4 linked regions of the Homo sapiens genome follow. The protein of the gene in region 4 purifies or fractionates together with the protein of the main gene of each other region. This does not show direct contact. Each region holds a gene or a part of one and is shown on either strand. Other genes may lie near its edges.

Region 1 (3,500 bases), on a different chromosome or scaffold from region 4:
ATAAATACTAGCCTCGATTACATCGTGCAAGGCCCATGTCTGTGGGTCTTAACCCTTCCCCTTGACTGTAATCTCCTTAAGGGGAGGACTTGGGTCTGAGGCCCTTTGTTACCCACAATACCTGGCAATGTGTAGGTACTGGGACATATTTGCTAACAGCCTGACCAACTGGCTAATGACTGCTTCTCTCATGTTCCAAACAGGCACGCTCCTTCTCTTTTTTTTTTTTTTTTAAATGAAGCTTTGCTCTTTTTGCCCAGGCTGGAGTGCAATGGCACAATCTCGGCTCACCACAACCTCTGCCTCCCGGTTCAAGCAATTCTCCTCCCTCAGCCTCCTGAGTAGCTGGGATTACAGGCATGTGCCACCATGCCTGGCTAATTTTTGTATTTTCAATAGAGATGGGGTTTCTCCATGTTGGTCAGGCTGGTCTCGAACTCCTGAACTCAGGTGATCCACCCGCCTCGGCCTCCCAAAGTGCTGGGATTACAGGCGTGAGCCACTGCGCCCGGCCTACTCCTTCTCTTTCTCTTTCTTTCTTTCTCTCTCTCTCTTTTCTTTCTTTTTTCTGAGACAGGGTCTCACTCTGTTGCCCAGGCTGGAGTGCAGTGACGCAATCGTGGCTCACTGCAGCCTCCACCTGCCAGGCTCAAGTAAGTCTCCTACCTTAGCCTCCTGAGTAGTGAGGACTACAGGCATGTGCCACCACACCTGGATAATTGTTTTGTAACTTTTTTGTTTTAGAGATGAGGTCTCACTATGTTGTCCAGGCTGGTCTTGAACTCCGGGGCTCAAGTGATGTGCCCACCTTGGCCTCCCAAAGTGCTGGGATTATACACCCTCTTTTTCTAATTGACAAATTTCAACTTATTTTTCATGGCACAATTGCAATGTGACCTCCTCCTGTCCTGGCAGGGTGCATCACTCCCTCCTCTGGCTTGTACTGCACTTTGGGCATAAGCACTCGTTTGTTCATGCATTCATGAATTCAGGAGACATTTATTAAGCACCTACTGTTGTGCCAGCTCTGTGCTGGGCACCTACAGTTTGGCAGTTGCCTGACTTTCCCCCCAGCCAGTTAGTTCCCCTGGGGTTGAGCCCGTGTTGAGTGGCCACTGCCTGGCCTGGGGAAGACTTAGTGGAGACAGATATACCTTGTCCAGGTCCAACTTGCACAGGAGGACTGGGGATCTGGGGACCTCCACTCCCTCAGCTCCCCCAACTGGCTTGCTCACTTCTCGGATGACCTGTGAAGAGGACACACAGCTGTGAACGGGTGGGCAGGGAAGCTGTTGATGCAAAGGAAGAATGGGGACTGTGTGGTGAATGCTGTAGAACAGAGGGTCAGGGCCACTGTGGGGAACAGATGGACTGACACAGCTACCTGCATATGTGTGGGGCACATGGGTTTGTAAAGGCTTTCTCCCATATCTGTCCCCTGGGCTGAAAAGATACAAGGATGGGGACCAAGAGGCTTATTGCTAATTAGTTGTGTGGTCTTGGAAGAGCCACTTCCCTGCTCTGGGCCTCAGTGTCCACATCTGCAACATGGGAATATACTAGTCCTCTGCTTCCCTCCTTGGGTTGCCTGAGGACAGTGTGACCATGGATGCGAAGAGTGATGGGAACCATAAAGCCTCACAAGCATGAGGGACCTGCTTCTGTGACCATGTGCACCTTTACAGCAACCTGTAGGGTAGCTGGAGTTATCACCTCCATCTCCTAAAGGCATCCGCTCACTTGCCAAGGCCACACAGCAATAAGCATGAGATCAGGGAATAATCACAGCTACCATTTGTTGCTCACCTAATTGGTGGCTTTCTGTGGATTATCCCATTTTATCCCCCACCAGCCTTGTAAGCCCTGAGTTACAGCTTAAGATGATGAGCCTCGCAGAGGGGAAGCCACCTGTTAGGTGGCAGCAGAGCCAGAAACTAAATGCAGGCAGTTCAGCTGCCCACTGTTAACCTCTGGGCTAACGGCCGCCCAGGATCAATGTCAAGGCAAGTCTCTTTTAACTCCAGTCTAGGGATTCGTCTGCCGACCCAACCAGCTCGTGGAGGGTACAGGCTCCCCCAACAGGCAGGTTCTCTCCCTTCTTTCCCTCCTGAGACAAAGGGGTAATGAGAAACACCAAATGTTCCATCATGGGGGCTGGTTATCACAGGAAGGAAGGGGCTGGGTAGAGAGGGAGGTGTTTGGTTTCATTGTTCCAGCAGGAAGATCAGAGGAGGAAAGGATGGTGTCAGAGTGAAGTAGAGGCGGTGCAAGGATGAGGTCTGCTGTAAAGGAATGGGGGGTGGGGCATCGCAGTCATCACAACAGTAGTTACTGACAGTTACCACACACTCACTGCCTGGCAGGCGCTGTGCCAAGTGCTCTCCAGAATCCTTCCAAGGACCATTTCACAGATGAAAAAAACAGGCACAGAGGGTCAAAGTCATTTGCAGAAGGTCACACAGCCAGTAAGTGCCCTTTAGGCCTGGGGCTTGCACTCCAGTATGGGTGCCACAAAGTCCCCTCTCCCATGTCATCACTATGTCATCCTGCCTATGGCCTTTGGAGTAGATTTACTACTTAGCTTCAAATTCTGGCTCCCACCACTTTGGTTGTGTGACGTTTGGCAAGTCACATAAGTTCTCAAAGCTGTGTCTTAGTTTCCTCATCTGCGAAATGGGAACAATAATATTTTGTCCCATTTTCAAGCAGAAATGAGGTCACGTATGTAAAGCTCTTGGCACAATGCATGGTACAAAGTAAGTGCTCATTTTGTGGTGACTCTCATTGTTCTGTGTAGCTGCAGAGGCAGAAACTGGCCCATGGGTGGTCATTATAAGGATGTACGTTTCAAGGCAAGGAAGGATTTTTCCTTTGTTGTTGTTGTTTTAAGAATTCACTGGTCTAATGATGAAATCAGCTTCCTTTGTACATACTAAGCCTCCAGTTCCAGGAGGTATACAAGTGCAGGCTGAATAAGCCCACAGTAAGGATTTGGAAAGGGAATTCAAATAACCAGAAGGGACACAGGTCTCCAGCATGAAGTCTGCCTCTTGGAGATATCCGAGGCCCATTTCCATACATAAGCCCTAGCCACGCAGAGGGCACTTGGGCTCAGGCACTGAGCAAGAGGCTCTTCCAGGGACAGGAGCCAGCTCTACTGAGGGCTGGCTTGGGGAAGAGAGAAAGGGTGAGAAGGCGGGAAGGTCAGGTGCAGGCCACGCACCTTCAGCCACTCCTCGGCCTGCTCTCGGCTCTGCAGTGCCAGCACCAAGACCTCGGTAGCCCCCTGGGTGAAACGCAGCTCGTGCCTCTTGTGCCGGCTGTCCTTGGGCACGTAGATGATGCTGCAGGTATCCAGTGCCAACCTCAGATGTGGCTGCCGATCCTTGGAGCTTTTGTAACACTGGACAGGGAGAGAAACACATCAGGATCTTCTGAAGTAGAGGGTAGAGGAGGGAGACATCCTCACACAAAGGCTCGGGGGAAGCCCGACCTCCCTT
Region 2 (3,500 bases), on a different chromosome or scaffold from region 4:
GCCAACTAAGTTTGAGAATAAAATTTCTAGAGTTAGCCTGGATATGGACCTCTTTTATGCAATGTCCAACCAATTAAATACTTGCTCAATTTTCCTTCTTAAGGACTGAACTCATGGGTGTTGGGTGTTGTAAATTCACAGAGGGACTCTGCATTGATGTGAAAAGAAAACGGGAGACGTGCACTTAAGGGATTCCTTCAAGAAAGGGCACTCCCCACCCTTTTTCTGCCTAAGGGAATTTGGTGATGTTTTATTGAGCTGAAATGAGGCAATCTGTCTGCATCATGGGTAGGATTGAGAATGAGGATGTTAACTGTGACTGTGACAGAACATGAGGCAACCAGAAAAAAATATATGGTTTAGGCAGAGATGAGACTTTGACACTTCTACAAAAGAAACAAACAAAAACTTCAATTTGGTAAGTCATAGTGCTAAAAATAGTAATAACTATTACCTGAGACAATTTCTCTTCCCCACAATTTCTCTTCCCCACACATTCTTTCATGTATTTATTTCTCAACTTTACTAAACACATCAAGTCCTCACCCTCCAAAATGACTACAGGAACTGTAAACTAGGTATTATCAATTGTCTGAAACTACTCAGAAAGGTTTCATTTCACTCAAATATGACTGATTTATTTCAAAAATTTAATTTTATTGTGGTAAGAACCCTTAAAATGAGATCCACTCTCTTAACAGATTTTTAAGAGTACAATGTAGTATTGTTAATTATGGGCACAATGTTGTACAGCAGATCTCTAGAACTTATTCATCTTGTATAACTGAAATTTTATACCCACTGTGCACCAACTTCCCTCTCCCCCCTCCCCAACATGACCGATTTTTAACACACATTTGTATCAAGGTAACAAATGTTTGTAAGAGATTTTTTTCCCCATTAAATACTTTATGGTCATGAACTGATAAGATGGGCTTGGTTTGCTTGGCAGGAATCCATTATGAAGCCTTATCTAGTCATGAAGCCTGCAGAGACTAACCATTCTAGCCTCTGCAACATACTTTTCAGTAGCTATATCACACTAATTTATATTCATAGAGCAGCTTTACCTCCAAGGCACTTTTACACTTATCTAATTTGTCCATGCAACATTCCTGTGAGACAGACCAGGACAGTTATTATGAATTCAGTTTAACAGATGGAGAAGCCAAGGTACAGAATGTTCAAAAGATATGACAAATATCATAAAATCACTGACCCAGCCAAGGCCAGAAGTTGAATTTCCTGATTTCTAGTATGCCGCTCTAGTCAACTGATATTCTGCCTTTGACCTCATTAACATCACTTATCATCCCTAAGCGACCACATGGTAATTGTTGGTAAGCATCAGACACCAGACTTCCAGGCAGATTATTAACAGGAGAAGTCATAGCAATGAGTATCGCAAAGTCACAGCATTTTTAAAATTCTGACAATAACATAAACCTTGCTATTCAATAACTATCTCCCACTGTAAATTCTTTGTCACCATATTGATGTTTACTCAGAATCAGCACCTAATTCTGCAAGAGTCACAAAAGGAGAAAGGCTCTTGATGAGTGATTAAAAATTTTTACGTGGGGTGTAAGAGGGTATTTTCTAGCCCTACTTTTTGTTAACTTGTTTCTTATTAATAACATGATGCCATTTTGTATAAGCTAGTACATATCATTCTCTTAAGTTTGAGATAGGCAGTTTATTATTATTATTTTTAAAACTTTAGGGTACCATAATTTTGTTATGACTAATAAGGAATGCCTTTGTTTACTAATTCCTGCCAGAAAAGAAAGGCTACAGATCACCTATTCTGTAATCGAATATATTACTTTTGGTAAGTGGTCCATCATTTTCAACTGACTTATAAAATAACAATCCTATTCAACGAGTTCCTTCATCTAATTTTCTCAGTGTATGTTTGGCAAGTAGTTTATCAGCAAAGATAAACCAGGAATCACACTGCTCAAAGCCAGACAAAGTTTGATGAGTGCCCTGTGTTTTTCCGCCAGGTGGGCAACTGGTTATACACGCATGAAAAATCTTCCAGGCTCAATTTACTGTGACCATAACACAGAGCATGGTAGAGCTTTGGGGTTTCATGCTACTCTCTGGCTGCACATTAAAACAGATTCAAAGCCATTTACTAGGGTGAGTTTTTTACTAGGGCACATCTTTAGCTCATCCATAAGGCTGGAGGACTCTTGAGGCTAGTATTCTTATTTGGCTTCTCAGTTTTCAAAGAAGTCAATCCAACTTCAAACTGCATTCTGTTAAAGCATAAGTGTTGGTATGTACCTGGAACAAAATGAAAAGCTCTGCTCCTGGAACATGTCTATCAATGCTATCAAATATTTGACAAAGTTCATCTGAGAAGAAAAAAAGACATTTAAGAATAACTGACCAAGGAAAATACATTCCATTTGCCAGATTTTCTAAAATATGTATTGAGTTCAAGTCAGATCATCAGAAAACTGGGTTCTGTGAATCACAGCATATTGGGCCTGCTGCACCCCGCAGGATTATTCCTTTTATGAACGGTGCTTGTTGTGATACATGAACCTGTACTGGTAGTTGTTACAGGACACAGCTCTATGAAATTCACCCTTGCTCTTCCTGCAAGTTGTTGCTGGAGTGTTGTTAGATCTCATCCAGCGTCACTTTCACATGGTCTCATTCAGAAAAATTCCTCCCTGATTTCTGCAGCAAGAACTATTATGCTTTTCCTCAGCAGTAGTCTTATTTTTATCTTATTGTAAATTGCAAAACTACCTTTCATTTTTGGTAGACTACTAGAAGGCCTAAAGCCAGATTTACAGTCTAACCAGAGGCAAGTGGGCAGGTCATTATTTTAGTATCGTCCAGTCTCGACGTTAGCTTCATTTTTAACGAGCCTATCGATGAATTTCATTCTTTTTCCCCTTTTGTAATTTATAAGATTATCTTATATTTCACATACCTGTAAAAGTCTTTTTACAAACTTGCTGGAATATAGTTCACTATAAATACATAAATTAAAACTACAGTCCATTAAAAGGATGACTTTAAAATATTTCATTAGTTCCTTTCAAATAGCAAAAGGAATTTTAGACAGTAAAGAAATTCCCACTGCACCTTTAAAAAACAAGCTGAAAATGACCCTTGCTCCTCTCAGATCTCCTTTCTTAAACAAGCATGCTCAGGGCAACTACTGGCCTAACTTGATACTTCTTGGCTGTCCTGAAAGAGCATCTTTCTCCATCAATGCCCTTGAAATTATGCACAGATTAAACAATAAAATTAATCTTTCACATATAGCAAAGTGTTTTCTTCTCTGTGTCAGCAAAGACTAATTTAACAAATTCATTAACACAGGATTAACACTAAAGAAGTTCTTCTTGTTCCAGGTAGGATTGGGTTTCCATTTGTGAACAGGAATGACAGGCCTAGATAACTGCAGAGTGGAATTAAGTATTCAGCTATCTCTTCTAGTATTCGATGTCCTGTGAGCCCTTACTAAGTACATG
Region 3 (3,500 bases), on a different chromosome or scaffold from region 4:
CTCTTGACTTGGAAATGGCACAAGGGTGCAGGAAAGCAGGAAGTCCCTTTTGGGCTTCTAGAAATGGGTGGCATTTCAGCTGGCTCTTGAAGCATGGTTAGGATTGGAAGAGATTACTATAAAGCGTTTTGTTTGGAAAAAGCAGGAGTAAATGCAGAAAGGCATGAGACACACACAGATGAGGAAGGGTGAGAGAAGAGGCACTTTGCAAAAATGGACATTGTTTTCCAAAGAGCCTCAGACCCAGCACTAAGTGCTTTTTAATTTTAATTTTTATTTTTATTTTTTTTGAGACAAGGTTCTCTCGCACTGTTGCCCAGGATGGAGTGTAGTGGCGCCACCTCTGCTCACTGCAACCTCCACCTCCCAGGCTCAAGCAGTTCTCCTGTCTCAGCCTCCTGAGCAGCTGTGACTACAGGCACACGCCACTGTGCCGGGCTAATTTTTGTATTTAGTAGAGACAGGATTTCAACGTGTTGCCCGGGCTCGTCTCAAACTCCCCAGCTCTGGTGATCCACCTGCTTTGGCCTTCCAAAGTGCTGGGATTACAGGTGTGAGCCACTGCGCCCAGCCTATGAAGTGCTTTTTTAAAATGCAGATTCTTGGATCCTACTGTAGACCTATTAAGTCTGAGTCATTCATGATGGGCCCTGGATTCCACATAACCAAATGAAATGACAAAAAGAATAACTCCAGATTGTTCTTCTATGCCCTCAAATTTGGACATCTGGCACCCATATGTGAGAGAGACATTGAAGGGGCCAAAAGCTCCTCTCCACTCCTGAGCCTTGTGGTGGGGAGTAGTGAGTCCCGACAGCTGTCCACATTTGCTAATCAGTTCCTGCATAACTTATGCCCCTTGGCAATTGGTAGTTATTGGGAAGATAAGTACAGTCCCTTTGGAGTTATCAGATTCCAGGTTGTTAGAATTAAAAGGTGACCCTAGGGATGATCTCGGTGTTTGGCTTTCTTTTCTCAAGGATAGCAGCCCCCCTAAGAAGTAGCAGTTGCCACAGTTACTGTACTGGATGAAACGCAGTTGGAAGTCATCTGTGGATTTATAAATGCTATCCTCCACATCCCTCCTCCTCAGAGAATGAAGAGCTGGCTGAACTACTGTTCTCTACCATTAGAACATTTGCTTTTTTTCATGGTACAATTTATAGGCAAATGCCACCAGCTCATTTGAGAAGGCAGCTTTATTTAATATGTCCTTTAACTATGTGAGTAAACTGCTTATGAGAGAGAAGAAACGGGAAAGCTTGTCATTATCAAGCTGCTATGGAATAAATTGCTTTCCTTGTGGGAAAACTAATGTATGATTTTTCTGTTAGCATTCAATGGCAACAGTTTAAACATGGTGAACTGGGGTTCTTTGGGGTTAATAACCATGGCTCCAGATTCACATTCCACACACTTAACATTTGTAAATCATTTAACCTTGCTTGCTGTCTCAACACTAGACTTTACCTAGAACAAATGAATAAGATCAATTGATAGCAATTTATCCACAAGCTTTATTGAATAGTACATGTAAAAGGTGACATGACTAATTGCAGTGGGAGTTGAGAAGAAAGAAATCAGTGTGGCTGAATTTGTCAAGAAATGCTTTGCTTCTAATAGGTGAAAAAGGAGGGTGTTTTGGAAGGGGACAGTTTGCGGGGTGGTGGGGGCAGGCAGAGAAGACCACACACACAATGCCTGGAAGAAGGTGGCGCTCGCATGCAGGAGCTGTGGCAAGCATCTTAGGAAAAGGGGTAGAGGCAGAATCATTTGGGACAGTTGTTAAAATGCAGATTTCTGGCCTTTCAGCCCTCTGCTTGATCAGTTTCCTGTGGAGAAGCCCGGTGGAGTGCATATTTAACAAGTGCCTCAGGGGATTCTTCCAAAAAGATTAGGGAGTATTTATGAGCTCTGCCCCTCCTTTCCCCAAAGGTACTTATTCCTGGAAAGCTTGAGAAGCTCTGGAGAGGATTCTGGAAGAGCCTTAAGACCTTTGGTCTGGCCGGGCACAGTGGTTCACGCCTGTAATCCCAGCACTTTGGGAGGCCGAGGTGCGGATCACTTGAACTGAGGCATTCAAGACCAGCCTGGGCAACATGGTGAAACCCTGTCTCTACTTACATTAGAAAAAAAATAGCCAAGTGTGGTGGTGCACACCTGTACATCCCAGCTGCTTCGGAAACTGAGGCAGGAGAATCACTTGAACCCAGGAGGCGGAGGTATCAGTGAGCCGAGATTGCGCCATTGCACTCCAGCCTGGGCGACAGTAGGAGCAATACTCTGTCTCAAAAAAAAAAAAAAAAAAAGGATCTTTGAGCTTGGGGCCTAAGGCAGTTCAAGAGACCCCTGAGAAAGAACATTGACCCCCGAAAAAAGCAGCTTTAAAAAATTGTATATTTTGTCGAGACGGGTTTTGCCGTGTTGCCCAGGCTGGTCTCGAAATCCTGGGCTCAAGCAATCCTCCCGCCTCAGCCATCCAAAAGTGCTGAGATTACAGGCATGAGCCATCACGCCCCGCCAAAAGCAGCTTTTAAGAAAGGGAAGAAATTCCAGGGCCGGGCACAGTGGCTCAAGCCTGTAATCCCAGCACTTTGGGAGGCCAAGGCAGGCGGATCACCTGAGGTCGGGAGTTCGAGACCAGCCTGACCAACATGGAGAAACCCCATTTCTACTAAAAATACAAAATGAGCTGGGCGTGGTGGCACGCACCTGTAATCCCAGCTACTCTCAAAGAAAAAAAAAAGGGAAGAAATTTGCATATTAATGAAAGTTCAGTGAGAGGAAACTTGAGACTGAGGTTGTAATGGGAGTGTATCCATGTAGTCACTCTAAGTCACAACTTAGAGTAAAATGAGGTTTCTATGATGTTTACTAAAAGAAAAGTGAGGTAATTGTGTTCTGGCTTCTTGGAGTTAGGAAGGGAGATACAGCGTCTGTATTTGCTGTCAGGAGTCACTGGTGACTAATTACAGTTTTTCTGGTTTTTTTTTTTTTTAGACAGTTTTGCTCTTGTTGCCCAGGCTGGAGTGCAGTGGCGCAATCTTGGCTCACTGCAACCTGTGCCTCCCGGGTTCAAGCAATTCTCCTGCCTCAGCCTCCCAAGTAGCTGGGACTACAGGCATGCGCCACCATGCCCGGCTAATTTTTTTGTATTTAGTAGAGACAGGGTTTCACCATGTTGGTCAGGCTCCTCTCGAACTCCTGACCTCAGGTGATACACCCGCCTTGGCCTCCCAGAGTGCTGGGATTACAGGTGTGAGCCACCACGCCCGGCCACTAATTAGAGTTTATAGGGCTTTGATAGCCACTTAAGTGGTGGTTATACTTCAGTAGATAATTAGAAATTTGAAGGACAGTGTGCCTGGGCGTTTAGCCTCATAGTAAACCTGTTTGGACTTCCACGGAAAGCAGCTAAGATACTTTTTATTTATTGTTATTCTTAGAATGGGAGAAAATCAGCCTTCCCACGGAGGGAGTGAGACCTCAAGTGAAAACCT
Region 4 (4,272 bases):
GCGAAACTCCGTCTCAAAATAAAATAATCTTCTAAAAATGACAGGGCCAGGTGGGGTGGCACTTTTTTATAATCCGAGCACTTTGGGAGGCTGAGGTGGGCAGATCGCTTGACATCAGGGGTTTGAGACCAGCCTGGCCAACATGGTGAAACTCCGTCTCTACTAAAAATACTAAAAATTAGCTGGGCGTGGTGGCGGGTGCCTGTAATCCCAGCTACTCGGGAGGCTGATGCAGGAGAATCGCCTGAACCAGGCAGATGCAGGATGCAGTGAGCCAAGATTAAGACACTGCACTCCAACCTAAGCAATACTTTGTCTCAAAAATAAAAAAAAGCCTGGGAAACAAAGTGAGACCCCGTCTCTACAAAAAAGTCAAAAAATTAGCTGGGTATGGTGGCAGTGATGGCACACACCTGTAGTCCCGGCTACTTGGGAAGCTTTTTAATATTTTTTGCAGAGACCGGGTCTCACTCTGTTACCTGGCCTGGTCTTGAACTCCTGGGCTCCAACAATCCCCTTTCCTGGGCCTCCCAAAGTGCTGGGATTACAGGCATGAGCCACCGTGCCCAGCCTCAAAGCATATTTTAAAGGATAGAAATAAACAGCCATATGAAGAGATACAGACAGGGCGGTCTGGAAGGGTCCAGAGCAGGAGCTTCTATCTCCATAGAGTTGGGGTTACGTCACCCTCTGGGCACATTCTGTCAGCCTCCACACGTTCAGCCCTCAGAAGCTCCCGAACCCTGTCCTTTGGGCCTTTTATGGAGAACTCCATTGGCTGTCCATGACTGAAGCATGGACAACTGTGATAATGTGATTGGGCAAAAAGGGTCTGATCTAAGCCCAGCAAGGCCAGTCCAGATTCTTTGGGCCTTTGTGCAGCATTCCTTTCTCCAGGGTATGGGGCAAGGACCCACTCTGGAATGAGGATCCTACAACCCACAATCAGATTAGAGTCCTGCCTTGGGCAGCTGAAAAGAGGACAGGAGAAGGTCAGAGAGACGAAAGGCTGTTTTTTGAGGCCTGAGGCACCCCAACATGACAACGTAAGACTGTAACCATGGTCATGTGAGTTATGAGCTAGGAACCCTGGACGAAACCAGCACATATACAATCATCTCCCACCTCCCAACGCCTTTACTTTCACAGCCTCTGCAGCAAACTGCGGTCACTATAATCGCTCCTGTGGCACAGAGGCATACCCAGGGGAATCTGCCCAGGGGGCCACTCTGTGCCCACGTGGGAACCCACACCTGCTTGTAAAGCCTCCCCTCCCTCTGACCAGCAACCAGGACAGTTTGTTGTTCCAAGCAGTGGGCTCATGTCTGTTTTGGCTCAGAACAGGGTGGGGAGAGCGGGCCAGGGACCCGCAGGAAGGCTTATCCTTGAGATTGCGTGGGAGACACAACAAGGGGTGGGGGCCCGCAGGCGGGGCGGGGCGAAGCAGGTGATATCAAGCCCAGAGCCCCAGCCTCTCCCCACAGTCTCACCATGGCCCGCACCGTGGTGCTCATCACCGGCTGTTCCTCGGGCATCGGCCTGCACTTGGCCGTACGTCTGGCTTCAGATCCATCCCAGAGCTTCAAAGGTATAGATAGGCAGGGACAGGGAGGGAGAGAAGGGAGGAGCCCTTGGAGGCCAGAAGGGAAGTCAGATCTTCCTCCTCTCCCAAAACCTCCAGTGTATGCCACGTTGAGGGACCTGAAAACACAGGGCCGGCTGTGGGAGGCGGCCCGGGCCCTGGCATGCCCTCCGGGATCCCTGGAGACGTTGCAGCTGGACGTAAGGGACTCAAAATCCGTGGCCGCTGCCCGGGAACGCGTGACTGAGGGCCGCGTGGACGTGCTGGGTGAGCCTCCTGGAAGCATATGGGCTCCTAGGAGCCTTCTCCGCCCTGCGTTGAAACCAACATGTTCCCAGGCCCAGGGAGCACGAGGGGACAGGCCGTGCTGAGGGTGATGCTGAGGCGGGCTGGTCGGGCCTCTTGTCTCCGCAGTGTGTAACGCAGGCCTGGGCCTGCTGGGGCCGCTGGAGGCGCTGGGGGAGGACGCCGTGGCCTCTGTGCTGGACGTGAATGTAGTAGGGACTGTGCGGATGCTGCAGGCCTTCCTGCCAGACATGAAGAGGCGCGGTTCGGGACGCGTGTTGGTGACCGGGAGCGTGGGAGGATTGATGGGTGAGTGGTAGGGAGTGGCCTCGGCAGCTCCAGATTCTTTGTGTGCGGAGCTGAGCCTTGAAGGCAGGTTCCGCGGGGGGGGTGGAGTGGGGTGCCGTCAGCTTGGAGGGGCACCGTCTGCCCGGGGATGACCCCCTGGCCGCTGCGCCTCAGGAACCTCGTCTCCCCACCTAAGGGCTGCCTTTCAATGACGTTTATTGCGCCAGCAAGTTCGCGCTCGAAGGCTTATGCGAGAGTCTGGCGGTTCTGCTGCTGCCCTTTGGGGTCCAGTGAGTCAACACCCCCGTTCCCCGAACCCTCTTAACTCTGACCTAGAGACGCCGAGCACCCTGTCCTGCGGGAGCCGCTCTGGGGCGATCTCCCTGGCCCTCTCTGCCCGGCTCACATTAGCTGTGTGCCAGGCACTTGGGCTGGGCGCATGGCACGCATTGTGCCACCTGCTGACCTAGCTGCTGAAGTGTTGGTATTGTTATGGGGAAGCTCCAGCCCAGAGAGGTTAGGTGACTGGCCCAAGGTCACACAGCGGCCAGGGACCCCGCTAGATTCGAATCCTGACACCAGGGCTCCCTTGTAGCCTCAGATGGATTTGGGAGGGCTGCTCCGGCAGGAACCCGCGTTTCAAATGTTCTGGTTATCCCCAGCGCCCTTTCCGCCTCACTTCCCAGCGCAGCGGTGCTGCTCGCGGTCGGGGGCCGGGACGTGGTTGGGGCTGGGACTGGGGTTGGGGCTGGGACTGGGGCCTGGCTGGCGTCCGCCCCCTCCCACTCGTTGCTCTCCGGCCAGCAGCTTGAGCCTGATCGAGTGCGGCCCAGTGCACACCGCCTTCATGGAGAAGGTGTTGGGCAGCCCAGAGGAGGTGCTGGACCGCACGGACATCCACACCTTCCACCGCTTCTACCAATACCTCGCCCACAGCAAGCAAGTCTTTCGCGAGGCGGCGCAGAACCCTGAGGAGGTGGCGGAGGTGAGCGCCGGGCTGGACTCCAGGAGTGGGGGCGGTGCGTCCTCCGGCGCGCAGCGGTGGCCACAGCTCTCCTCCCGCCGCCGCAGGTCTTCCTCACCGCTTTGCGCGCCCCGAAGCCGACCCTGCGCTACTTCACCACCGAGCGCTTCCTGCCCCTGCTGCGGATGCGCCTGGACGACCCCAGCGGCTCCAACTACGTCACCGCCATGCACCGGGAAGTGTTCGGCGACGTTCCGGCAAAGGCCGAGGCTGGGGCCGAGGCTGGGGGCGGGGCCGGGCCTGGGGCAGAGGACGAGGCCGGGCGCGGTGCGGTGGGGGACCCTGAGCTCGGCGATCCTCCGGCCGCCCCGCAGTAAAGGCTTCCTCAGCCGCTGTCTCCCGCGCCCTTCTTTGTCCCCTGGGTCTGTGTGGTCCCTGGGGATGGGGCGGCGGTAGCAGCTGTGGGTGGCTAATTAAGATAGATCGCGTTAGCCAGTTTTACCAGCGCAGCTAGGCGCGATGGCTGTCGCCTGTAATGCCAGCGCTTTGGGAGGCGGAGGCAGGAGGATCGCTCAAGCCCCGGAGTTGGAGACCAGCCAGAGCAACACAGTGAGACCCCCATCTCTACAAAAATAAAGAAAATTTAAAAATCAGCACAGTGGCACCATTCCTTGAGCCCAGGAGTTGGAGGGTGCAGTGAGCATGATGGGGCCACTGCACTCCAGCCTGGGTGACAGAGTGAGACCCTGTCAATTAATCAAATGAACCAACCAACCGAAAAACTCAGAAACCAAGGTCCAGAAAGAAGCCAGCCCAGGATCACACCTCAAGTCCATATTAAAGGCCAGACACAGTCTCTGGATAACCAAGGGGCATCTGCAGGAGGAGTTAGGTGGGAATTGGCTTGGGGTAGAGTCAGGTTGTGACTTGGACCCCATTAGCCATGAGACCTCAGGCAAGTTCCTTGCTTTCTCTCAGTCTTTCTTTTCTTTCTTTCTTTCTTTTTTTTTTATTTTCTGAGACAGAGTTTCGCTCTTGTTGCCTAGGCTGGAGTGCAATGGGGCAATCTCGGCTCACCACAATCTCCGCTTCCCAGATTCAAGTGATTCTCCTGCCTCAGCCTCCCAAGTAGCTGGGATACCGGCTAATTTTG

What was found. The genes of interacting proteins can lie anywhere in the genome.
Region 1: the proteins of HSD17B1 (region 4) and AFAP1L1 purify together in Homo sapiens (affinity purification with mass spectrometry; one large-scale study listed by BioGRID and IntAct). This does not show direct contact.
Region 2: the proteins of HSD17B1 (region 4) and PDLIM5 purify together in Homo sapiens (affinity purification with mass spectrometry; one large-scale study listed by BioGRID and IntAct). This does not show direct contact.
Region 3: the proteins of HSD17B1 (region 4) and NOCT purify together in Homo sapiens (affinity purification with mass spectrometry; one large-scale study listed by BioGRID and IntAct). This does not show direct contact.

The regions. Positions count from the first base shown.
Region 1 is NC_000005.10:149,309,859-149,313,358, reverse strand, and holds part of AFAP1L1 (actin filament-associated protein 1-like 1), read right to left. Parts: intron 3,404-3,500; coding exon 3,224-3,403; intron 1,248-3,223; coding exon 1,155-1,247; coding exon of another isoform or gene 1,041-1,154; exon of another isoform or gene 984-1,040; intron 1-983. UniProt on the Homo sapiens protein: May be involved in podosome and invadosome formation.
Region 2 is NC_000004.12:94,650,942-94,654,441, reverse strand, and holds part of PDLIM5 (PDZ and LIM domain protein 5), read right to left. Parts: intron 1-3,500. UniProt on the Homo sapiens protein: May play an important role in the heart development by scaffolding PKC to the Z-disk region. May play a role in the regulation of cardiomyocyte expansion. Isoforms lacking the LIM domains may negatively modulate the scaffolding activity of isoform 1.
Region 3 is NC_000004.12:139,018,781-139,022,280, forward strand, and holds part of NOCT (nocturnin), read left to right. Parts: intron 1-3,500. UniProt on the Homo sapiens protein: Phosphatase which catalyzes the conversion of NADP(+) to NAD(+) and of NADPH to NADH. Shows a small preference for NADPH over NADP(+). Represses translation and promotes degradation of target mRNA molecules.
Region 4 is NC_000017.11:42,551,443-42,555,714, forward strand, and holds HSD17B1 (17-beta-hydroxysteroid dehydrogenase type 1), read left to right. Parts: upstream 1-1,480; 5' UTR 1,481-1,491; coding exon 1,492-1,588; exon of another isoform or gene 1,589-1,681; coding exon 1,682-1,849; exon of another isoform or gene 1,850-1,996; coding exon 1,997-2,176; exon of another isoform or gene 2,177-2,351; coding exon 2,352-2,445; exon of another isoform or gene 2,446-2,959; coding exon of another isoform or gene 2,960-2,962; coding exon 2,963-3,140; exon of another isoform or gene 3,141-3,226; coding exon 3,227-3,496; 3' UTR 3,497-3,772; downstream 3,773-4,272. UniProt on the Homo sapiens protein: Favors the reduction of estrogens and androgens. Converts estrone (E1) to a more potent estrogen, 17beta-estradiol (E2). Also has 20-alpha-HSD activity. Uses preferentially NADH.